7 linked regions of the Homo sapiens genome follow. The protein of the gene in region 3 purifies or fractionates together with the protein of the main gene of each other region. This does not show direct contact. Each region holds a gene or a part of one and is shown on either strand. Other genes may lie near its edges. The genes, in order: TIAL1, SEC16A, SAV1, BAG1, CREB3L2, WRAP53 and USP9X.

Region 1 (3,500 bases), on a different chromosome or scaffold from region 3:
TCCATTATATCTCCAGTACCTTGTATAGTGCCTAGTGCAAAGGAAATTTTTGATCGATGAAAGCACAAATAAATAATTAAAGGCAGGAAGGAAAAATATAATACACCAGAACAAAATGATGATTGTCATTACTTGGGAAAGACAATCAAAAGGCCAATGCACTTTAAAGGTTTTTAACAGTTCTCCGTTTCAGGATAAAACAAACTCTTTAGCACAGTTTCTAGCCCTTTCCATAAACTCCTGCCATCTCTTACGACTAATTCCATTTTAACTACAACCATGCTACGGGTTCTATTTTTCCCTCTCTGTCTCAAGCACTCCTGCTCTCCCTACCAACCTGGATCAAAGTTCCCTTTATTTGGAATCCCTTCTTCCCTCAATTCCTTTCTAGCCAGTATGTACTACTATCCTTTCAAGGTTTCCGCCTAGGCAGTGAGTCCTCCAAGAAGCCGCTCACTGACCTAAGGCTGCACTGGATACACATTTGCTCCCACAGCACTTTAAGTTGTCTGCTTCTAGAGCATTTATTATCCTACTTCCTAAGTGCCTGCTAACTCCTTTGTCTCCCTACTAAACTGTAAAATTCTCTGGGCCAAGGAACTATCTTTATTCACCAGTGTATCTCTAGCACTTACTGCAGTATCTAGTACATAGGAAATAGTCCAAAAAAAAAAAAGAAAGCTGATCAATGAACAAAAACACAAGGAAGAAAAGCCTAAAACATGACTAATTGGGTGCTGCTACAGTCTTAGCAGGAAAGTATAAAAAGGTAAGTATTTGCTACAGACACACGAGACGAACGGTGCTGCACACTACACACATAATAACTTCGTGTTCTCGCACATGAACACATGCTGTCTAAATCGTTAACATTCTTATTGGAATTGTATGAAATACTTTCCAATTTTTCACCATTCTGAAATGAGCTCTAATAATGTTCTGAAAGCAGAATCACTTCAAGATAACCACACCATGAAGAATGACCGTTTGAGCTTAACAGCACGGAAACTTTGCCCTCTTAAATAAAACTCCATTCTAAGCCTAGTTTGTCAGCCAAATCAAAGTAATAAGTCAACACAACACAAATCTCTCCACCAGAATAACTTGAGGCTTACAATGAAATTTTAAAATCATGCTAATCAACCCATCATGCTAATTGTCAGCACATGGAACTGGGAAGATCTTACCTCTGTTATCATTTTACAGCTTTTACAGGGTCCAATCTGACTGAACAACTGAAGTATAAGGACTTCTGTCACATCTCTGGAAAGGTTACCTACGTATCTGCACAAGAAAAAAATACGTTATCAGCAATTTTTCCTTTAGCTCTGGCTCTAATGTGTTATCATCTAATTCATCACCTTTTCTTTCTTTCTTTCTTTCTTTCTTTTTTTTTTAGATGGAGTTTTGCTCTTGTTGCCCAGGCTGGAGTGCAATGGCATGATCTCAGCTCACTGCAACTTCCGCCTCCCAGATTCAAACGATTTTCCTGTCTCAGCCTCCCAAGTAGCTGGGATTACAGGCGCATGCCACCATGCCTGGCTAATTTTTGTATTCTTAGTAGAGACAGGGTTTCATCGTATTGGTCAGGCTGGTCTTGAACTCCTGACCTCAGGTGATCTGTCCGCCTTGGCCTCCCAAAGTGCTGGAATTACAAGCGTGAGCCACTGCGCCCGGCCACCTTTTATTTCATTTTAACTTCCTCTGTTTTCAACAAAATTTCTCCAATTAAACCTGATCCTATGAAAGTAAGATTAACCCTTATTTAGGAAAGCAACAATTGTTCTTAGGCCACTAAAATACCACTCTGAAAGACATTTAAAGAACAAATCAATGTGATCTTGTATACCCCAATGGCATTATTATTCTGTACCCTGGATATCATTTTCTCATCTTATTCTAATTGTTAAAATTTTAAACTGGTCTCAAGATAACTACAATTTCTAATTAAAAATAATTTATAACACACACACACATACAACAAATACTAATTCATTAAAACATCTGATTGTAATAGGATATTAAACATAAAGTGAGTTTATCTTAGATTCCCAACCAAAGCAATTACATGAACAAAGAACAGAATTAAAGTTATAGTAAAACATACAGAGGGTGGAGGGTTTTTGTTGTTTTGTTTTTGGCTGAGTAAGGTTGTTTGCAATGATGTCTTCACTGTTTCATTTTAGGAGAGCAGGGTAAAATATAAAATTTCCTAGTCTAAAATGCATCAGAATCAACAAAATATATATGTATTTTTTTGAGATGGAGTCTCACTCTGTCACCCAGGCTGGAGTGCAGTGGCATGATCTCAGCTCACTGCAACCTCCGCCTCCCAGGTTCAAGCGATTCTCCTGCCTCAGCCTCCCAGGTAGCTGGGACTACAGGCGTGCACCACCACGCCCGGCTAATTTTTGTATTTTTAGTAGAGACGGGGTTTCACCATGTTGGCCTGGCTGGTCTCAAACTCCTAACCTCAAGTGATCCACCTGCCTGAGTCTCCCAAAGTGCTGGGATTACAGGAGTGAGCCACCATGCCCAGCCAACAAAATATATCTTAATGTAGATAAAAAAGCTAATACAAAGATTTCTTAAGAAATTCAGAGAAAAACTAAGACAAATCCAGGCATACTTTTGACTATGGACACTTAAAAATTTGGGTTTTTTTTCCTAATTACAATTGAATGTGTTTTGTGTAAAAGATTTTAAATACAGGAAAGTTTAAAAAAGAAAAGAAAAAAATGCTACTTCATCACACAGAGAGGACCACCTTGGTTTATGTCTTGTACTATGGATTTATCTTAATTTATCTAAATAAATTGCCAAACACTAAAGTCTTTCTGGTATTCTACACATAATTCCTCAAATTTGCATCTGTTATGAACAACCTCATAAACCAAACAATATCTGTAAAATTTAACAAAGTTCATTCTGGAAAGTAGATTTCTTTTTCTACTTGTAATATATTACATCTGGAAACTGAGTATTAAGACCAAAATAAGACTTGCAACATAGCTGCCACATTAAATACACAACATGCTTTAAGATGGAATACTCAAAGGGAAAAATAGACTGAGAAAGCTTAGGTTAAGTAAAAAACTTAAAAGATCCAATTAAGAATTAGTAGCGATTTTCCAGTTAAGAATTTTATTGCAATGAGTACTAATAATCTTAGTGTACCTGCTCTAAAATTGAAACACACATCCAATATTACCTAACTAGAGGACTAAACAAGTGACAAACTGTTTTACGTCCACTATGCCACCTTTTCCACGTAATTAAGGAGCTGATCCATCAGCAGGCCAATGTAGTGACATACTTTTTCCAGCAGGACTAAAAGGTTATTGGGTTATGAGCCAGCGATAGGCTGCTTGCCCCTTCTTAACTCATAGGGGTTTGTGAGCCTGTATCTCTGAAATGATTTCTTTTTGTACAGAGTAGACCTATCTGTAAGAAAAATGAACAAGTGACCAGGCATGGTGGCTCACGCCTGTAATCCCAGC
Region 2 (3,500 bases), on a different chromosome or scaffold from region 3:
ACCTACACAGGTCTGAGGGGTCAGGTGTGCACCTGGTCACACGCACACAAACCATGATGCTCGAGGCCCATGGGGGAGGCCCAGCCCCATTCCCCGGGGCAGTACCCAGCAAGCCACGGCAGCCTTGCTCCTCGGGGCGGGCCCCCTTCTGACTGCAAGGCCTTCCTGTGTGGCCCCAAGTCTGGTTCCAACTGGCCTTACATACCGCAAGACCATGGTTTTCCAATTCCCTATCACACAATCCTTCTACCTGGGGTGACACTGAATCGGTGAACCCAATCGGTGTATGTTGAACTGGGTTAGAGGGTAGGAAAAGCAGATAATGATCAAATGTGTACACAGACACTTTTCGAACGACTGCAGGATTATGCGGAACCTAACTCAAATGTCACTCATGAGCTGGTGTCCCTGTGAAAAAGAGGCACAGAAGAATCTTCTGCACGAGCACAGCCGGTCCCCGAGCCGCTGCCCGCACCACCACGTGCTGACAGCAGCTTGCGGGACTCCGCCTCGCTTAGCTGATGCGTGTGGCTCATGCTCCAAAACTATTTTCTCTCCATGTTTTTATTCTCCAGGGGCATTTAAAGGACTATGGTTATACCCAATGCTTCTGACGTAAGCTTCCAGAGGCTAGCCCAGCTTCCCAAGGCATGCAAGACAGAACTTTTCTGCAGACAGCCAGCAGGAGCAGGGGTGACAGCAAATGGAGGGCTCTTTTTGTCACATAAGCTGGGGAGGCTGGTTCAAATCCTAAGCAAGTATTATAAGCAATTCAAGATGCTAACGCGTGGTGTGAACTAAGGGTGGCCTGTGCTTGGGAGAGTAGGTTCTGGAGCCGGGAGCCCTGTCCTCAGGAAGCGTTACTGGAATACTGTTCTCACGCCTGCGGGACTGTGGGTGACCCCGGAACCAAGCGAACAAACACTACTAAGGAATACACTGTGAGTGAGACTCAACTGGTCAAAGCACAGACAGAAAAGTGGGTTACACATACGACTCGACTCTTACCTGGTAATAGAGGGAGGCTGCGCCAGGCTCCGGTGGGTACGGCAAAGAGTACTGAGGCTGGTAGGCATCGTACAAAGGCCGGTAGTAGTAGTAGGCGGCCAGGTCCTGAGGCGGTGGGCCGGGGGCAAGTGCAGGCACTGGCTGTGGCCACGGCTGCTCTGACGGCACAGCTGCCTGGCCGGAGCCACTGGACACCAGAGACACGCTAGAGGACTGAGGAGGCCGAGGGGGCAGCTGCTGACCCGCGTCGACCAGAACCAGACTTGCTGGTGACTGTGCTGAGTTCTGGGCCTGTCCCTGTGCGGGCAGACTTTCTGGATTTGACAGCTCCGAAAACATGGCTTTGGGTAGTTGTGGGGGAGAAGCCTGTTGCTGGGGTGGCACCAGCTCCTGCTGGGCTCTTTCGAGGCCAGGCTGGCCCTGGGCATCTTTCGTGACCTGCTGATAAAAACGGTCAAGGTTAGGCGCCCCAGGCCCAGATTGTCTGGGATGACTGGCAACACTTTGCTGAGAAGCGAGGCTGTCAGAATGGGACGGGTTGTACACGTTTACAGGATTTTCCAAAGTCCTGCTTAAGGTAAAGTCTAGGGCTCCGTAAGTGTCTTCCTGATGACTGGAATGGTTTGCCTTATTACCATCAGGCACCAGGGTGCCGTGTGCAGGTGGAACTAACACCACACTTGTGCTTCCAGCAGGGCTATTAGCAAATCCGGGAAGAGCACTTCCTGCCTTACGATCCTTTTGACTTTCTGGAACCAAGTTCTCTGGAACTGGCTGGGATGGTGGTTGAACCAGCAAATTAGCAGGCTGATTAGAAACCATTTCGGAAGCACCAGAACCTTGTGGAAAATTACTTTGGGCAACACTGCTAGGCAGAGACAAGCTAAGGACAGAGCTGGTTGGAATCCCAGACAAAGAAGTGTTCTCCCCAGAATCACCACCGAGAGCCCAACTGCTGACTGCAGGTCTATCCCCCACCAAAGCCTCTCTCCAGGACTGATTCTTCTCATGAGAGTTCGATAAGGACACAGAAAAGTTAATGGGCTGAGCCAGATTATAGCTGTGATCAGGCTGAGCAATCAAGACTGGAGGATTCTGCAGAGACTCAGTGGGCGGTGAGGATAATAAACTTGCATAACCAGAACTCGCCTGGGACTGAAGGGCCTCCTCCTCTCCCATTTTGGGAGGATTCTCAAGGTTCTCAGAAGCACCAATGCCACCTCGGCTCTGCACCGGGGCCGCCGAGCTTGGGTTCCGTGACTGCTGCCCGGACATCGCCTCTTCTGGAGGCTGAACAACAGGTGGCTGAGGTTTTGCACACACATAAAGCGCCGGGGCTGCAGGGGCCAGAAGGACGTTGCCTCCAAAATCTGGCAGCTCACTTTGCGCCCACAGAGTCGTTGCTGGGCTCTCACACTTCACGGGCCCCTGGGTCCTGGCTGAAGGCCTCTTCTCGGGTGCTGGATACACAGTATCCAAGGGCGGTGCCCCTGCGTGCGGAAGCATGTGCACAGCTTCCGTGGTGGAGTTAAGAGGCAGGGGACAGACCTGGGGTGCACAGAGGGTCTCCATGTTGTCTGGTGGCTGCTCCAGGTTGCCAGGGGAAGCATCGGGCAGGGCGGCAGCTGGTCTGCACTGCTTCTGGCGGACACAGGTCTCCCTTACTTCACCAACCACGTTGGCGCGATCTGCCTCAAATGGTTTTACCCCAACTAAGTGAGATTTTACCGGTTCGAAAGAACTATTTGCACTTGTCTGAAATATTCCTGTAGGTTTCGGGGGGCTCGGGGTTGAGGGCTGGGACACGCTGCCACGGTAATTCTGGCTCACAGTGGTCTCGTCTGTTTCACCTCCTACGGGAGAAGAATCGATTTGCTTAAAAAAACTACCTGAAGCTTCATCCTCGGGTTTTCCAACTTCTTGCTGAATGAATGTGCCAACCAGCTCCTGGGGCCTGGCTGAGCCTGAGAGCCTTCCGTGGCTTCTGCTGCTATAGCTGGATGACACGCTGTCAGGGTGCACTGTATGCAGTGTGGCATCAGGGGCTCCGGTGTGGCACACAGCACCATGCCTGGGCACAGCTGGCCCAGGAAGGGGCCCATATCTGAACTGGTCACTCGGGGAGGAAGGGTCCAAATTGAGGGGCTCACTTGGCAGAACTTCTTGATTCTGAACAAATTCTAAGTTCTCAACATTCTCATACTGCGAGCCGCTGGCATCCGGCACCCCTGTGCTCGCTGTGTCACCCCACACATCACCAGCAGCCTCATTGCTGGGGCCTGGGAGAAGGGCCTGGCAGAGGCTGCCTGCCCCCACGTGTGTAGGTGCGGGCGGACGGCCTAGCCCAGGGCTGGAGCAGAAATCGTCAAAGTCCGCTTGACCAGATAAGCCTGCTTTTTCAGATGAGAGATTCTCCTCATTTTCTGTCTCTCCCCCTTGGAAAAACATCGCCAGAGCTCCTGAAGCTCCTGAGTCTGCTTCTAGCGGGGCAC
Region 3 (3,500 bases):
GACAGAACTAAAATTTAAGCGCAAAACAAAGGAATTCAGTCTGCCTTTAGTATTCCAACTAAAGACTTCCTGTTAACAGCAGGATTCCTTTCTTTGGAACATACAGTAAGTGCGTGACTGGTATGCGGCCAAGAACATTAAAGGTCAAATTTTCTAATCTGAAAGTTCTACAGCTAAACGTAGAACTTTCTAGGCTCTAAAACTTTCTGAGATTATACAACTTGTTTTTGTGCTTCTACTAAATACAATAAGCTGAATTTAACCCTTGACACAAGGTGTTTCCTGAAAATCTAATAACTAATTGACAGGAATTACTATTGCCATTAAGTCATTACAAAACAAATTTTCCAACCTTTTTATGCTTATGACAATCAAAATTCAATGTTTCTGAAAATAGATCTATCGCACAAACCTATCCTATCCTCCTACAAACTTACTTTCTCCTTTCTATTCATTCAAATTCCTTGAACCTTATTCAGCATAAATCCTAAAAATATGTTTTAAGTCTTCTCAAGGTGAATTCAAGAAACTTTCAGCTACTGTCTCATATTCAGATTTTTCCCTTGTGGAAGAGGCAGTTATTAGGCTTTTCTGTTTGGCATGTAATTGGTTATTAATCTTTCCCTGCAACTTTAGAGATTCCTTCAAAAAAAGTACTACTTTTTTCTACAAGGTAAAACATTAAATCTATATTGCCCTGATAAAAATTAATCTTATCAAATGAAGTCTCTCAAGCTCTCAAGCAGTGTATCAACTGCTGTAAAGAATTTTTTTTTTTTTTTTTTTTTGGTTGGGAGAGATACCTTATTACCTGAGATTCTTCAACTACCTGCAACCTTCTTTAAACCTAACGCAATCTGATATAAAAGAGCCTGGGATGAGACTTCGAAGGCAGAAGTCTACTGTCTCATTAAAACAAGGTCTTGGCTATTCCATGAAATCAAATCTTATTTCAGTGCATGTGTGTTCCAATAAAACTACTGTATTGCAGGAGGCAAGTCTATCTGGCCTATGGGTGTAGCTTGCTGACTCCTGCTGAAGCCTCCCTCATAAAATTAAAAACACCCTCAAGATTAAAATTACGGTAGGGGCCCGAATTTTGATAAAATATTTTCCTTCTCTTTTTCCACCTCCATGTATGACTGCTTGCAAAGTCATTTCAACAAATGGCAGTCACTAATAATTGTCTTCCTGTGGCAGCCCCTGGGCAGGCTGCCCATAAGATTAACAAACCTGTTTCTTTTAAAGAACAATAATCCAGACTGGGTGCTGCGGCACATGCCTGTAATCCCAGCACTTTGGGAGGCCAAGGCAGGCAGATTGCTTGAGCTTGGGAGTTTGACCAGCCTGGGCAACACTGAAATTCAGTCTCTACTAAAAATACAAAAAATTAGCCAGGTGTGGTGGTGCATGCCTGTAGTCCCAGCTACTCAGGAGGCTGAGGTGGGAGGATTGCTTGAGCCCGAGGTCGAGGCTGCAGTGAGCTGTGATCATGCTACTGCACTACAGCCCGGGCAACAGAGCAAGATCCTGTCTCAAAAAAGAAAATAGAAGAGAAGAACAAGAAAACAATGATCCTAGATCACACAGACCCCCTTGATAGTTTCCAGAATTTGGACTGGCCAAACAGGCCAGGCCACTTTGATCACTGGTGATCTCACCTCCTGCAAACTCTTCTGCTAAGCTATAGGTTTAAACAGTAACCTGCCATTTTTTCCCAGCTTTCTTTCCATAGTAACTGGCAGTCACAAACACTACTGTAAAACCTAAGACTGGTCTTCGAGATATTTTTCAGACTTTGCTTACAAGTGGACCAACTGACACCAAATGGACCAGTGTTCCATGAACTCAACCAAGGAACTGACTTGGTCTTGTGACTCCCCAATTTCCCAGCAACTGATTCAGCACATGAAGACAGCATTGATAACCCTATGATCTCATACCAGTCCAATCACCAGCACCCATCCCCTAGCCCCCTGCCTGCCAAATCATCTTTAAATATCTTAGCTTCTCCAGTCTTGGCGGTGATGACTCTGAGAAACATTTCCCATCCTCCTTACTCAGCTGCCTTGCAATAATTAAACTCTTTCTTCTTTACAGTATCTGCTGTCTCAGTGTTCTGCTCTATTCGGATAGCAGACAAGAGCCCAGTCAGGTGGTAACATTGTTTTATAGCATTTTTTGGATACATAATTATTTGCACATGTTTATGGGGTACATGTGATATTGTGATACATGCAAAGAGTATGAAATAATCAAGTCAGGGTATTTAGGGTATCCATCACCGTGAGTATTTATCATTTCTATGTGTTGGGAACATTTCAAGTCCTCTCTTTTAGCTATTTCAAAATGTTAACTGTAGTTACCCTACTCTGCTATCAAACCTTAGAACTTATTCCATCTAACTTTATGTTTGGACCCATTAACCTACCTCTCTTTACCTCCCCTCCCATCCTTCCCAACCTCTGCTATCATTCTATCTCCATGAAATCAATGTGTTTCGCTCCCACATGTGAGTAAGAACATGAGACACTTCTCTTTCTGTGCCTGATTTCCCTTAATATAATGACCTCCAGTTCCATTCAAGCTGCTGCAAATGACATGATAAACATGGGAGTGCAGGTATTTCTTTGATATACTGATTTCTTTTCCTTTAGATAGATACCCAGCAGTGGAACTGCCGGATCATATGGTAGTTCTGTTTTCGGTTTTCTGAGAAATTTCCAAACTGTTTTTCATAGTGCCTGTCCTAATTATTGTAACATTCCCACCAACAGTCTGTAACAGTTGCCTTTTCTTCACACTCTCACCAGTAGTATATTTTTTTGTCTTTTTAACAATAGCCATTCTGACTGGGGTAAGACACCTCACTGTGGTTTTCACTTACATTTCCTTGACGATTAGTGATGTTGCACATTTTTTCACATACCTTTTGGCCATTTGTATGTCTTCTTTTGAGAAACGTCTATTCATGTCCTTTGCCCACTTTTTAATGGGGTTGTTTTTCTTACTGTTGGCTTCCTTGCATATTCTGGATATTAGTCCCTTGCTGGATGAATCTTTTGCAAACACTTTCTCCTATTCAATATGTTGTCTCTTCATTCTGTTGTTTCCTTTACTGTGCAGACGCCTTTTGGTTTAATATAGTCCCATATGTCTATTTGTTTTTGTTGCCTGTGCTTTTGAGGTCTTAGCCATAAAATCTTTGTTAGATCGATGTCCTGAAGTGTTTCCCCTACATTTTCTTCTAGTACTTTTATAATTTCAGGTCTTAAGTCTTTAATCCATCTCAAGTTGAATTTGCATATGGTGAGACAAGGGTCAGATTTCATTCTTCTGCATGTGGATATCCAATTTTCCCAGCATCGTTTATTGAAGAAAGTGTCCTTTTCCCAATGCACGTTCTTGGTGCTTTTGTAAAAAAATCAGTTGGCTGTAAATATGTGGATTTATTTCTGCATTACCTATTTTTGTTCCATTGGTCTATGTGTCTTTCTATA
Region 4 (3,500 bases), on a different chromosome or scaffold from region 3:
TCACAATGAGGGATAAGTGGTCTACTTATGTGCCAAACACCTTGTTCTAGGCCATTCCCAATATTCCTGACTAGGTGCAACCTCCTGGTGATTCTGGTTTTACAGCTATGGGACTACACGATCACAAGAGCAAAGAAGCCCTCATGTATCTGAAGACTGAGGGGGCCTATAAACCTGAAACTGGCCCAAGGCAAATTAGAGCTCTCACCAGCCCAAAGAAAGCACCCAGAGGTCCAAACAGCTGGGAAAATTTGGGCAGAGGTGGCCCTCTCCAGAAAAGGTGGATTGCTGGACAGTACAACCACAGAGACAGAAGGAGAAAACAGATAGGAGCTTTACTCAAAATCACAAAGACACTATTTTTCATTGAGAACCAGTGTGAGAGTAGGAAAATTGGCAAATGGCCAGTTGCCCCCAGCAGCCCTGAAGAAATCAGGTAAATTCCGCTCCAGAGACGGCAGAGCTGGTGGCGCCATTCTTCAGGGCAGCACAGCCTTTTTCTGCTACACCTCACTCGGCCAGGGCAAAGTTTGTAGACTGCAGCCGCTCAGTCTCCTGGCAGATGTTCTGCTCCACTGTGTCACACTCGGCTAGGAATGCCTAGAAAATACACACGGGGCAGTAAGGGCCCATCCAGGGGTAGCCGACCACTGCCCACACAAGGCTCCTTGCTTACCCATTCTGGGGAACCCATGGCTGAGACTCAAAACAGATTGTGCATGAATGGAGATGGGCCACTGGCCTGGGTTCCAAGGTAAGGGGAGGGAGGGAGCATAGGACCAGCATTCTGACCATGCTCTAGGCCAGCAATCCCCTAAAAGGTGGTAAAGGCAGGGAGCTTTGCCTCAGGGCCACTGCACAGCAACTGCACAATCGCAGGAAGCACTGTGTGCATGAATACTGCCTCCTGGAATTGTGTAATGTGTCAGCCCTACCTGCTCTCCAGTGAGTTCCCTCCCTAAATAGTTTAAATTCAAATATAATTACAGGGACACAGGTGGCTCTTCTCTGACGTTTGGGGTTCCTGCTGATAAATATAACCAAAACAAGCCCATACCACACACCACGCTCCTACACTACCTGATTTTGAACAGATAAACACACATACCTACACATTAACATATTACACCTTGTCGTGCACTATTACACAACTCACCTGAACCTTTTTTACCAAGCCTTTCCTTTTCAATCTACTGTCTTTGAAATTTTCTGGCAGGATCTATGGAAGAGTAAGTTGATAATACAAGTTAGTAAATAGTAAACATGTAACAAATAATCCTCAGTGAAAATGACATGAGAGCACATAAGAAACACCCACAGTACACAAAACAGGTCACAGGTCACCAATGTAAATGTGATATCCATTTTCAGGAACCCTTTCCCTGGGTCTGTATCCTGTATGGCCTTTCCATGGCTCTTGTCCCTATAAAAGCTCCCTGTGTTCTCAATGTCTGGGCCATAGGAACTGATCTTTAACACAGACTTTGTTCTTTTATTGTTTCCTATGTATGGATACTCTGCCCTGGCCACACCATGGGCTCATTGTGACAGGAAAAGTGCCTGCTGCTGCTTCTTTACACCCACCCTGGCCAACAGAAGTACACAGTGCAGTTCACCTTCAAGAATGAAGCATCAGGCTAGAGATATCATTACTATCATCTGCAAAAGAGTTAATGATTTTCAATGGCCTCACATGACCTGGGTCTGGCTGAATCATCTATAAGTAATGAGCCCTGCAGAATTATCAGTCACATATTCATCAGAGAAAGTTAAATCCTCTGTTTCCTGGACCATGAGATCGTGGACTCCTTGGGTCCCAGCTTCATGACGATTACAGATGCTACTGGCAAACATAAGTGTAAATGATAAAAGTCCTATGCTGGAGGGCTGTGAGTGCCTAGAAAGCAGGAACTGTCTTATCATCATGCATTCACCCAGGACCTAGCAACATGACTGGCACACAATAGTAGATGCTTAATATTCTCAAGTGATGGGTTTGCTCAGGCAATAGGAGAGTAAATTACTGAAAGAGTGAATGTGACTGAAATAAAGTCAAAGAAAACTAGTTCTTCTCAGCTGAATATTTACTTACCAGTGTGTCAATCTCCTCCAAGATCTTCATAAACTGCTCTATTGTGGCTTTTACTCTCCTATCAAGTTTGCAGAGAGCTTCAGCTTGCAAATCCTTGGGCAGAAAACCCTGCGGGGAAATAATGCATTATTGCAAGGGTTCTCTGAGGCTGACGGAAGACTCCATGCCACAATACTAATGATGCAATCACACTGAGCCCACCATAGCCCTGGCAGGCCAGGCCACATCTCAGATCCACAACTTTAACTCTTGGAAAAATTAAAAAGGCTGGCCGTGGGCCAGTCCAAGAATTCTATCAGGTTGCAGTCTGCTCTACCTCGCATGACCCACTGTGGCTGCAAATGCCTCCTGAGGCTTGGCTCCAGTGAAGCCCCCAGTCACAAGAAGAGGCAGATGTTAAAAGCACAGGTTTAGAGTCTTCAAAGCCTACGCCTGAAAACTGACTGCCATTTACTAACTTGTGATCTTGAGCAAATTATTTAGCCTATTCATGCCTCAGTACCCTCATTTTAAAAATGAAGATTATGATGCCCACACCCTAGATGGTTACTGTGAGGTAAAGGGAATATATGTACATGTGTCACTAACTTGTGGCACAGACGCATGCTAAAGAATGGCAGCAGTGCTTATTTTTATCAAATTGTCTAATGGTTCACTCACACAGCTTGGCCTAATGACCAGTTAGCTGGTGACAAGAGTTGGATAGCAGGGATCTCTGAGGATGTTTATCACAGCCACGAGCTACAGACACAGATTTCACAACACGTAGCAAGAGCTTTAAACATCACCCAGCAATTCCAACTCAAAGAATTTATTCTACCAAAAAAACCAGGAATGGTCAAAAAAGATTTACGTCCAAGGACAGTCAAAGAAGCATTACACATAATGGTAAAAATAATATTAAATGAACAATACAGAGTTGGCTAGGTAAATAATACATTTATACAAGATGAAATGCATGCGAGCTTTGAAAAATACCATCACAGGAAAATGTTTAATTTTTTATCCAATAAAAGAATAGTTTATAAAGTGTAAATAACATTATATCAAATTTTTTTAAGATGAAAAATATATTTCAGGCTTTGGTAATCGTCATCTCTGAGTTGGTGCCCCATGGGTAATTTTTATTTTCCATATTAGTGCCTATACATGTACTTAAAACTTTTGTACAGTCAGCATGTATTCTGTAATTAAAACACAAACATATAGGCCGGGCGCAGTGGCTCATGCCTGTAATCCCAGCACTTTGGGAGGCCGAGGCGGGCAGATCACTTGAGGTCAGGAGTTTGAGACCAGTCTGGCCAACATGGTGAAACCCCATCTCTATTAAAAATACAAAAAAATCAGACAGATGTGGTGGCAGGCGGCACCTGTAATCCCAGCTACTCGGGAGGCTGAGGCAGGAGAA
Region 5 (2,804 bases), on a different chromosome or scaffold from region 3:
TTAACCAAAAGGTTATCTAATTTTGCCCATATTGGTGTCAAATCTCATCCCCACTCCCTGCCAAAAAAGAGCAACCTAGTTCAGCTGTCGGATTTTTATATAACACTCTCTTTATGTGAGCTAGACTCCAGAGTCCTCACACTTCACAGAAATTCTTTCTTAAAACTGGCACTGCAGCCTTTCATTTACAATATCCCTTTTTAAGTGCAAAGTCGAGGGCTGTGAAAAGAACCACGGTGGGGGGTCTGGGTTACTCAGGTCTTATCCAGTGAAAAATTAGTTCTCTGAATCTTTGCAAAACATCTCCTTCACTGGTGCAATCTAAGAAAGGGAAATGGGAAACTTGTTTACATGATGAAAAATATAATTAAGAGATTGACTCTTTATGGCTTATGGCCGCTCTGACAGACTCGTATTTCTCAAAACTTACATTCAGAAGACACTGTCTGCCACTATTTGAAATCTTTAGAGCTAATCATAAGTTAATGACTAGTCTAAGAGGCCACTTGGTGGGGAAAACAAATCCACTGATATTCTGGTCTTAATCCCTGAACAGAAAATGTGCACACATCCATTAACTATTTGGAACCAATCTGGTGCTATACAACTCTTCTGTGTCCTCTTGACCCCATTTTGTCCTCCTAAAGGGACAACTGTTAGTTCCTTTAACCCACTCAAGCAAGGAGTGGAGGGCAGAGGTTTATCTAAAAGAGCAGTGATGTTGGTTCTTGGAGCCCCCTTAAAAGGGCCATCTGAGCTCTCTGCCTAACGTCCCATTGTCTACATAGATTCCGTTTTGGAAGGATGGTTTCCCAGAGAAAGAGTCCTGCTGTTTGGAGGTCGAGAGAGAGTGACGTCAAGCAAGCGTAGTAAGGGAGAAAATAAAATCCTCAAAGCACTAAGGACAGGGGCTAGAAGTTTCCTTTATCTTCTCCCTCCTCATTTAGAAGAGCACGTTTCCTACTCTACGTCTGGGAGCCTTGAAAACCCAGTCTGGTTCAGTTGCAGCAGGTACATGGGTTGGCTCATTCTCTCACTTCTGCCCCTAAATTTGAAACCTTTCCTTCCTCATTGCCCAAATGCTACTTGAGTAAATCTTATCTTTTTGCCTTCTTTGGGCCCTATAGGCTGCCTATGCCTGATAATGACCTGACAGTTTAAAAGAGAGGGATGGGTCAGTGGAGGCCCATGGTTACCAGACACCAGCCAGGCCCAACAGGATCTGGGCTGCAGACAGTGGAGCAGAGAGAAGCAGAAGCAGAACCTACTAGCAACCCTCCTCCTGCACAGCTCAGACAGTCTCCGCCCTGGCTAATGGGAGGGACAACAAGAACCCTCCAGACAACAGGGCTGCCAGGACTACGGGGGCCCGATCCAGCTTCCACTCACAGTGAGAAGATGAACTTGGCCGCTTTCCAGGCTGGAACCGTCTCCAGCATAGCAGAGAGAGGGGAATCACTCACAGGGAGCCCCAAATGGGCCTAGACAGACAAGGCAGGGACCGACTTATGAGGTATGACGACAAATGTTAATAACATCAAATCCTGTACCTGATATGGAATGGAAGCCAGGGTGTGGGCTTAATCCCTCTAAGTACAGGCTCCAATAACAATGCAGATGACGTGTGTGGGGGTGGGTGGTGGGGGGAGAGAGAGAAGGAGAGACAGAGAGAGAGAGGGAGAGAGAGAAGCCAAAACCAAAGGCATTTCAGCTGCTAATAAAAATAAAATACAAACTCTATGCACATTTCCTACACAAAATCTTTCCCAAGCTCGGAAAAAACACTTGAGGGTTTTCTACATTACACAATAAAAAGGCAATTTCCACTTCTTATTTATATGAAAGAGGAAAGATTTTTTTAAACTACAAAAGTTACTTTTAACCATAAAAAAAAAACAAAAAAACTAAAAGTAGGTTGGGGATTAGGTTGTATCTCTTTGGGCGAGCTGCAAAGTAGCCAAACCTGACTACCAAAGGTAAGAATGTGGATACACAAATGTCACCTACCCCACCCTGCTTTGTTGAGGTAGGGGACGAGGAGGACAAAGTGGAAGTGTGGAGGGAGGAGGGGGCCAGGCAGGTGTGGAAAGCCAGCAAGGTTGTCTGAAATGTCTGTTGTCAGAACAGGGCTTCCCCTTCTCTGTCATGAAAACAGGATAGAAAAAGCTTGTGGCCAGGGAGCCCGGGGCCTGAGTGAGGCATTGTGTCATCTCTCGCTCTGAGCTCATCCTAGAGGCAGACACATACATGCTCAAAGGAACTTCTTTTTCAATGGTAATTATTCCAGTTAAAAGAAAAAACAAAGGAAAGGAAACAAAACATTGTCTGGAAAGACACGGGATCCCAGAGCCTAGGGTGCCCTCCTAGCTCTGAAGGCTCGCAGAAAACTTGGCTAGCTTGAAAGGAGGCATCGATCTCTTCAGTGTGGTTGCTAGCAGGAAGCCTCGGCAAGCTAATAAATACTATTTACAACTGGGGAGGAGAAGCTGGGGAGGCAGAACTATGGATGTGTGGGGAACCAGGTTGTGGGAGGTCCTAAAAGCGACAAGATGGGGCAGGTTTGCCTGGAGTAGAAAAGCCTGATCCCCTCAGGCATTGCACTTGCGGCCTGAGAATATGAACGAGAGCCCTCGCCTGCCAGTGCTGCTGCAGGAGACGAGACGATCCAGCGAGGGCTCCCAGGGGGCAGAGTGGGCGGAGGGCTGCTGTCGGGGGTGTTCACACCAGAGACCCCAGTGCGAGCAACGGAGGACACGGGTCAGTGCTTTGCCAAATACCAACAGGCATTATGGCATTTTTGTGGC
Region 6 (2,763 bases), on a different chromosome or scaffold from region 3:
CCAAGCACTTCAGGAGGCCAAGGCAGGTGGATCACCTGAGGTCAGTTCGAGACCAGCCTGGCCAACGTGGTGAAACCCCATCTCTATGAAAAATACACAATTAGCTGGGTGTGGTGGTGCACACCTGTAATCCCAGCTACTCAGGAGGCTGAGGCAGGAGAATCACTTCAACCTGGGAGGCGGAGGTTGCAGTGAGCTGAGACTGCATCACCGCCCTCCAGCCTGGGTGACAGAGGGAGACTCAATCTAAAAAAAAAAAAAGGAAGGGGAGGAAGCCAACTGACCAGCCCCTCTGATAAGCATGCCAAGCCTTCCTCCTCCAAAGACCCCTGGCAGCCCTTGACTCTCCCAAGAGGCCCTGCTTGAAACTGGGTGGTGGGGCGGCGAGCAGGGAGGCAAACATTACTTACTAGGAGGTGTCTGGCTGGGCTGAGGACATCAGAGAATACCAGCAGTAATCATAGATGGTATCACCTTCCACCATTCGAAGGACAGGGACCTATACAGAGACGGGGGAATGGCTGAGTCACTCGGAGGGAAAAGGAGTCTGAGGCGCGTGCCTCTAGCAGTGTTGTGGCAGATGGGGTGTATATATGGAGCACAGACTCTGTCTCAATGTTCAAGGGTGAGCTCAGACTTTAATGTCAAATTTAGCCACCAAAAGCCATATAGATTCATACTTTTTTTTTTTTATTATTTTGAGACAGAGCATGCACCACCATGCCTGGCTAATTTTGTTTTTGTTTTTTTTTTTAATAGAGACAGGGTTTCACCATGATGTTGGCCAGGCTGGTCTCAAACTTCTGACCTCAGGTGATCCACCCGCCTCAGCCTCCAAAAGTGCTGGGATTACAGGTGTGAGCCACCGTGCCGGGCCTTATACTTTTTCTTTATAAACACTTAGAGAGGAAGAAACAAATAATAATACCTCAACCCAGAGACAAAGAACCAACCAATTATTCAAATACTTACTGAGTACATGCTAGGTGCCATTTGATCCTTTAAAAAAATATTAGTACAAAAATTTGCCAGGCGTGGTGGTGGACACCTGTAATCCCAGATACTCAGGAGGCTGAGGCAGGAGAATCCCTTGAACCCAGGAGACAAAGGTTGCAGTGAGCTGAGATCGCACCACTGCACTCCACCCTAGGTGACAGAGAGACAGTGCCCCCCAAAAAAAAAAGAAAAAGAAAAGAAAAAAATTATCGGCTGAGCACAGTGGCTCACACCTGTAATCCCAGCACTTAGGGAGGCTGAGGCAGGCAGATCACTTGAGCCCAGGAGTTCAAGACCAGCCTGGGCAATATGGTGAAACACTGTCTCTACAAGAAAAAAAAATTAGCTGGGCATGGTAGTGCATGCCTGTAGTCCCAGCTACTAGGGAGGCTGAGGCATGAGAATTGCTTGAGCCCAGGAGATAGAGACCACAGTGAGCTGAGATCATTGCCACTGCACTCCAGCCTGGGCAACAGAAACACTGTCTCAAAAATACAAAAATGGAAACAAAAAAACCTCCTTACAAAAATAAAGAAAAAAAATTAAACAGTTCAAACATACAAAGTATCTTATTAAAAAAACAGCCCTGTGACCCCTCCATCCAGCTGAACAAAAAGATATGTTTAAACCCCTTTCCTAACAGAAACTCTCCCTCAGAGGTAAACACTATCTTGAATTTATCACTGTCATACATTTCCTTAGGAATATATATATATATATAAATATATATATATATATATAAATATATATATATATATATATATATAAATATATATATATATATAAATATATATATATATATAAATTTTTTTTTTTTAATTTTAAAGGCAGAGTCTCACTCTGTCACCCAGGCTGAGTGCAGTGGCACGATCTCAGTTCACTGCAACCTCCACCTCCCAGGTTCAAGCAATTCTTGTGTCTCAGCCTCCCGAGTAGCTGGGATTGCAGGAGTTCACCTCCATGCTCAGCTAATTTTTTGTATTTTTAGTATAGACAGGGTTTCGCCACGTTGGCCAGGCTGGTCTCGAACTCTTGGCCTCAAGTGATCTTTCTGCCTCAGCCTCCCAAAGTGCTGGGATTACAGGTGTGAGCCACTGCGCCCAGCCTAGGAGTATATTCATATGGGAAAAAAAACAGTATCTAACGTTGTCTTGCAGGTCTTTAGACTTAATTTTTTCTTTTCTTAGAGACAGGGTCTTACTCTGTTGCCTAGGCTGGAGCACAGTGGCGCAATCATCTCACTGAAACCTCAAACTCCTGGGCTCAAGCAAACAATCCCCTGGCCTCAGCCTCCCTAGTAACTGGGAATATAAGCATAAGCCACCATACCTGGCTTATTTATTTATTTATTTATTTATTTATTTATTTTTGACGGAGTCTCGCTCTGTCGCCCAGGCTGGAATGCAGTGGCACAATCTTGGCTCACTGCAACCTCTGCCTCCCAGACTCAAGCAATTCTCTGCCTCAGCCTCCTGAGTAGCTACGATTACAGGCGCCTGCTATCACGCCCGGCTAATTTTTTTGTATTTTTAGTAGAGACGGGGTTTCACCATCTTGGCCAGGCTGGTCTTGAACTCCTGACCTCGTGATCCACCCACCTCAGTCTCCCAAGTGCTGGGATTACAGGCATGAGACACCACGCCCAGCCTGCCCGGCTAATCTTTAAAATTATTTTTTTGTAGAAACAGGGGTCTGTGTTGCTCACGCTGGTCTAAAACTCCTGGCCTCAAGCAATCCAGCCACCTCAGCCTTTCAATGCACTGGGAT
Region 7 (3,500 bases), on a different chromosome or scaffold from region 3:
ATTTCATAAGTAGCTTACACTTTTCAGTCTCATCTTGTAATCTTTGGTTTTGTTTGAGACAGGGTCTTGCTCTGCTGCCCAGGCTGGAGTGCAGTGGCACAGTCATGGCTCACTGCAGCTTCAACCTCCCAGGCTCCAGCGATCCTCCCACCTCAGCCTTCCGAGTAGCTGGGATTACAGGTGTGCGCCACCATACTTGGGTAATTTTTAAAATCTTCTTTGAAGAGATGGGGGTCTCACTATGTTGCCTAGGCTGGTCCTGAACTCCCGAGCTCAAGCAATCCTCCCACCCTGGCTTCCCAAAGTGCTGGCATTACAGGTGTGAGTCACTGTCCCCCAGTCTCAGCTTGTAGTCTTTGGTGCAGGGATGTCAAAGATATGATACAAGGTAATAGAAGCAGAAGTCAGCTTCTGAATAACAAAAGGCCATGTTTAGACTAAGTAACTATTTTAATATGATTTCTCTATTGTGACCCAGAGTTTTTATTCTATATTCCAAACTTCAAACAAAATTCTCTTGGTTTAGAAAAACATAAAGCAATCTATTAAAGAAGCAAACCAAACATTAGTATAATAGGAATGAAAATCCAAAGCAATGTACCAATCACTGGCAGAGCCACGGACTACTTTCTTTGTGTGAAATCCTGTAGTAAAGAGGAACCTAGCAGCAAGTTGAATACTGATCATAGTGATTTCTTCTGCTTCAGGCAACAGGTGATCTTGCCCTATAAATAAAATGCAGATATAAAAACACATTTTTATTTTCCAACCCCATTTTCAAACAAGTCTGTGTTTCCATTAATTTTGAGAAGTCCTAAATTTGTTAAGAACCCTTCTCAGGCTACTTTAATTTAGACCCATTTATTTTTTTATTTTATTTTTTTGAGATGGAGACTCACTGTCACCCAGGCTGGAGTGCAGTGGCCATCAATTTGGGTCACTGCAACCTCCACCTCCCAGGTTCAAGCGATTCTCCTGCCTCAGCCTCCGGAGTAGCTGGGACTACAGGGAGTAGCTGGGACTACAGGTGCATGCCACCATGCCTGGCTAATTTTTATATTTTTAGTAGAGATGGGGTTTCACCATGTTGGTCAGGCTGGTATTGAACTCTTGACCTCAGGTGATCCACCTACCTCGGCCTCCCAAAGTGCTGGGATTACAGGCGTGAACCACCACACCCAGCAAATTAGACTCATTTAAAGTGAAAACATTAATTTTATGAACTTAAACATGTTGACGCCTACTATAAATTATTCTTTATTACTAAGAAGCTAAACTCTCTTGATACTCACCGGGAGGAGGGTTTAAGTAAACGCCATTACATGTAAGCAGTTTTTTCATAAACTGAAAATACTCCATACTGTACTGCATTCGGTTATGCATGAATTGTACGTTCTGTTTCCGTACACTTCTCTCAATGGCTGATGGCATAATAATCTGATGAGGTCTGGTGGTGATAGCAAGCTCTGATATATATCTTATCAACTCATCATCTTGGTCTATTGTGTCCATTCGTTCATAAAAAAGTATATAAGCATTCCACCACCTTTTCTGGCGCCTGTATGACATACGCTTCATCATGTGATCAAACACTTCTCCCATGTACTCTCCACCAAAACACTGGTTTTTCATTTCTTCGTCATCATCCATTTTACATTCTGTTACATCACCATCATCAAATTTATACCAGCGATTTCTCTCACCATCTCCACCATTCCTTTGGATGATGTAAGAATAATAATGCCCCCCACTCGCTTGACCACTGTGTACGAGCACACCCACAAGTCTGTATTTTGTGCTTCCTGCTGTCTCACTTTCAGACTGCTCACTCTGTTGTATCAACTGACTCTCTGGGTTTACATTATCCCCTTCCAGCTTTGCGACACCTGCAACTGTGTAAGGTTCCATGTCCAGCTCTCGAGGAAATTCAAAATAATCATTGAACTTGATTGCACATTCTCTTTCCCAGTCATAGTCAAATCGCTTTAGTTGTATAGCAAGAACAGGAGGTAATTTTTTAATCAGCAAGCGCTTTACGGTATCAACCTAAAATAAACAAGACAAAGTTACCAGATGTTCTATTAAAATCCACAGGAAAAAAAAAAAAACCCCAAGCAAACTTTTAAATGATATTAAGACTTATCTGAATTTTTAAGTATAAACAAATACATGACAATGAGCATAATCAAGATAATCCTATCAGCTGATTTAAATGCTGAAATTAATAATATGCAAATGGTAAATTGTTGACTGGTTTCTGTCATTGTTATCTAGCCATTATTACCTGTTTGATGTTTACTGTTGTTCCCACGAAGGTGGTTTCCTATGCACAAACCAAAGAACTACAATAACAATAAGAGTAGCTAATATTTGTTGGGTAATTCAGATGCCAGGTAATATATACTAAGTGCCGCACAAGTAAAAACATACCGAATCCTTACAACCTTCTCAAGTGTGTACTACTGAACCTTAAAAGATGAAAACTAGTAATCACAGAGAGGTCAAGTAACTTGCCTCAGGTCTCAGGAGCTGCAGGTGGCAGGCAGTATGGCTTTACAGCCCACAATCTCAATCTTTAAACTTCAGGACTTCTCTAAGTGGTGCATAAGGCCAAAACAACACAAGTGACTTGAGGGTGAAAGGGTTTGGGAGCTCCCAAAGATACACCTTATTCATTACTATAATGCGTGTGAATCATCTCTCTCAAAGAACTGCTAATAAGTTTCCAAAATAAATGGTTTTATAACATAGGTGATAAAAGAAATCTTATGGGCCACTTGACTAGTCTAAAAGAAATCTTATGTGGTTCAATAAAGTAATTAATGGTTTCAGCAAATGTTTTGGTCTTGACAAGTAATCCTGGACATGACAGGAGAAATGTTTTCCTCTATCAGCTCTGTATCTTTGAGGGGTTCAATGGCAATTTGTTTCTCGGTAGAGATGGAAAGTGTCTGTGTAACTTATATAAGAGAATGTGCTATCACGTTATGACTTTTAAAATTATTCACTCTTATTTACCTATTTTTATCTTATTTACCTAGCCCCTTTGGCACTACTTTTTTTCCTTCCTTGCCAAACCTTCTATTAGTTATCATATTGACTACTTCTCTGCTACCACTATACCAAAGTAGGAGAAAATAAAAATAGGGTGACTTGTGAGGATGAACCAAAAAAACCAATTTCTTCTAAATCCATTAAATGTAATCAAAATTAAACAAAACTGGACAGCCCGTACCTTTTTATTGCATTTTTCACAATGATATGCATTTGCACCTTCTAGTAAATCTCCTTTGACATACTGTTCCAAAGAATCAAGAAGATTTTGGTGATTTCTAATGTCTACGTTTAGGGTCGTAAAAGATTCTTCACATTCGTACCTAAAAACGATTTAAAAAAAGGATTTATCCCTTAGTTTTGTAAACATTTTAGTTATGGACTTAATGTAAACTACATTTGCCTTTTTTTTTTAAATTATACTTTAAGTTCTAGGGTACATGTCC

The links.
Region 1: the proteins of SAV1 (region 3) and TIAL1 purify together in Homo sapiens (affinity purification with mass spectrometry; 2 studies listed by BioGRID and IntAct, with this or other methods). This does not show direct contact.
Region 2: the proteins of SAV1 (region 3) and SEC16A purify together in Homo sapiens (affinity purification with mass spectrometry; 2 studies listed by BioGRID and IntAct, with this or other methods). This does not show direct contact.
Region 4: the proteins of SAV1 (region 3) and BAG1 purify together in Homo sapiens (affinity purification with mass spectrometry; 3 studies listed by BioGRID and IntAct, with this or other methods). This does not show direct contact.
Region 5: the proteins of SAV1 (region 3) and CREB3L2 purify together in Homo sapiens (co-immunoprecipitation; one large-scale study listed by IntAct). This does not show direct contact.
Region 6: the proteins of SAV1 (region 3) and WRAP53 purify together in Homo sapiens (co-immunoprecipitation; one large-scale study listed by IntAct). This does not show direct contact.
Region 7: the proteins of SAV1 (region 3) and USP9X purify together in Homo sapiens (affinity purification with western blotting; one study listed by BioGRID). This does not show direct contact.

Annotation. Positions count from the first base shown.
Region 1 is NC_000010.11:119,586,965-119,590,464, forward strand, and holds part of TIAL1 (nucleolysin TIAR), read right to left. Parts: intron 1,285-3,500; coding exon 1,188-1,284; intron 1-1,187. UniProt on the Homo sapiens protein: RNA-binding protein involved in alternative pre-RNA splicing and in cytoplasmic stress granules formation. Shows a preference for uridine-rich RNAs.
Region 2 is NC_000009.12:136,473,041-136,476,540, forward strand, and holds part of SEC16A (protein transport protein Sec16A), read right to left. Parts: coding exon 1,009-3,500; intron 1-1,008. UniProt on the Homo sapiens protein: Acts as a molecular scaffold that plays a key role in the organization of the endoplasmic reticulum exit sites (ERES), also known as transitional endoplasmic reticulum (tER).
Region 3 is NC_000014.9:50,658,307-50,661,806, forward strand, and holds part of SAV1 (protein salvador homolog 1), read right to left. Parts: intron 1-3,500. UniProt on the Homo sapiens protein: Regulator of STK3/MST2 and STK4/MST1 in the Hippo signaling pathway which plays a pivotal role in organ size control and tumor suppression by restricting proliferation and promoting apoptosis.
Region 4 is NC_000009.12:33,254,709-33,258,208, forward strand, and holds part of BAG1 (BAG family molecular chaperone regulator 1), read right to left. Parts: intron 2,201-3,500; coding exon 2,093-2,200; intron 1,220-2,092; coding exon 1,157-1,219; intron 601-1,156; coding exon 511-600; 3' UTR 1-510. UniProt on the Homo sapiens protein: Co-chaperone for HSP70 and HSC70 chaperone proteins. Acts as a nucleotide-exchange factor (NEF) promoting the release of ADP from the HSP70 and HSC70 proteins thereby triggering client/substrate protein release.
Region 5 is NC_000007.14:137,877,283-137,880,086, forward strand, and holds part of CREB3L2 (cyclic AMP-responsive element-binding protein 3-like protein 2), read right to left. Parts: 3' UTR 1-2,804. UniProt on the Homo sapiens protein: Transcription factor involved in unfolded protein response (UPR).
Region 6 is NC_000017.11:7,698,477-7,701,239, reverse strand, and holds part of WRAP53 (telomerase Cajal body protein 1), read right to left. Parts: intron 500-2,763; coding exon 411-499; intron 1-410. UniProt on the Homo sapiens protein: RNA chaperone that plays a key role in telomere maintenance and RNA localization to Cajal bodies. Specifically recognizes and binds the Cajal body box (CAB box) present in both small Cajal body RNAs (scaRNAs) and telomerase RNA template component (TERC).
Region 7 is NC_000023.11:41,214,445-41,217,944, reverse strand, and holds part of USP9X (ubiquitin carboxyl-terminal hydrolase 9X), read right to left. Parts: intron 3,378-3,500; coding exon 3,236-3,377; intron 2,047-3,235; coding exon 1,293-2,046; intron 726-1,292; coding exon 602-725; intron 1-601.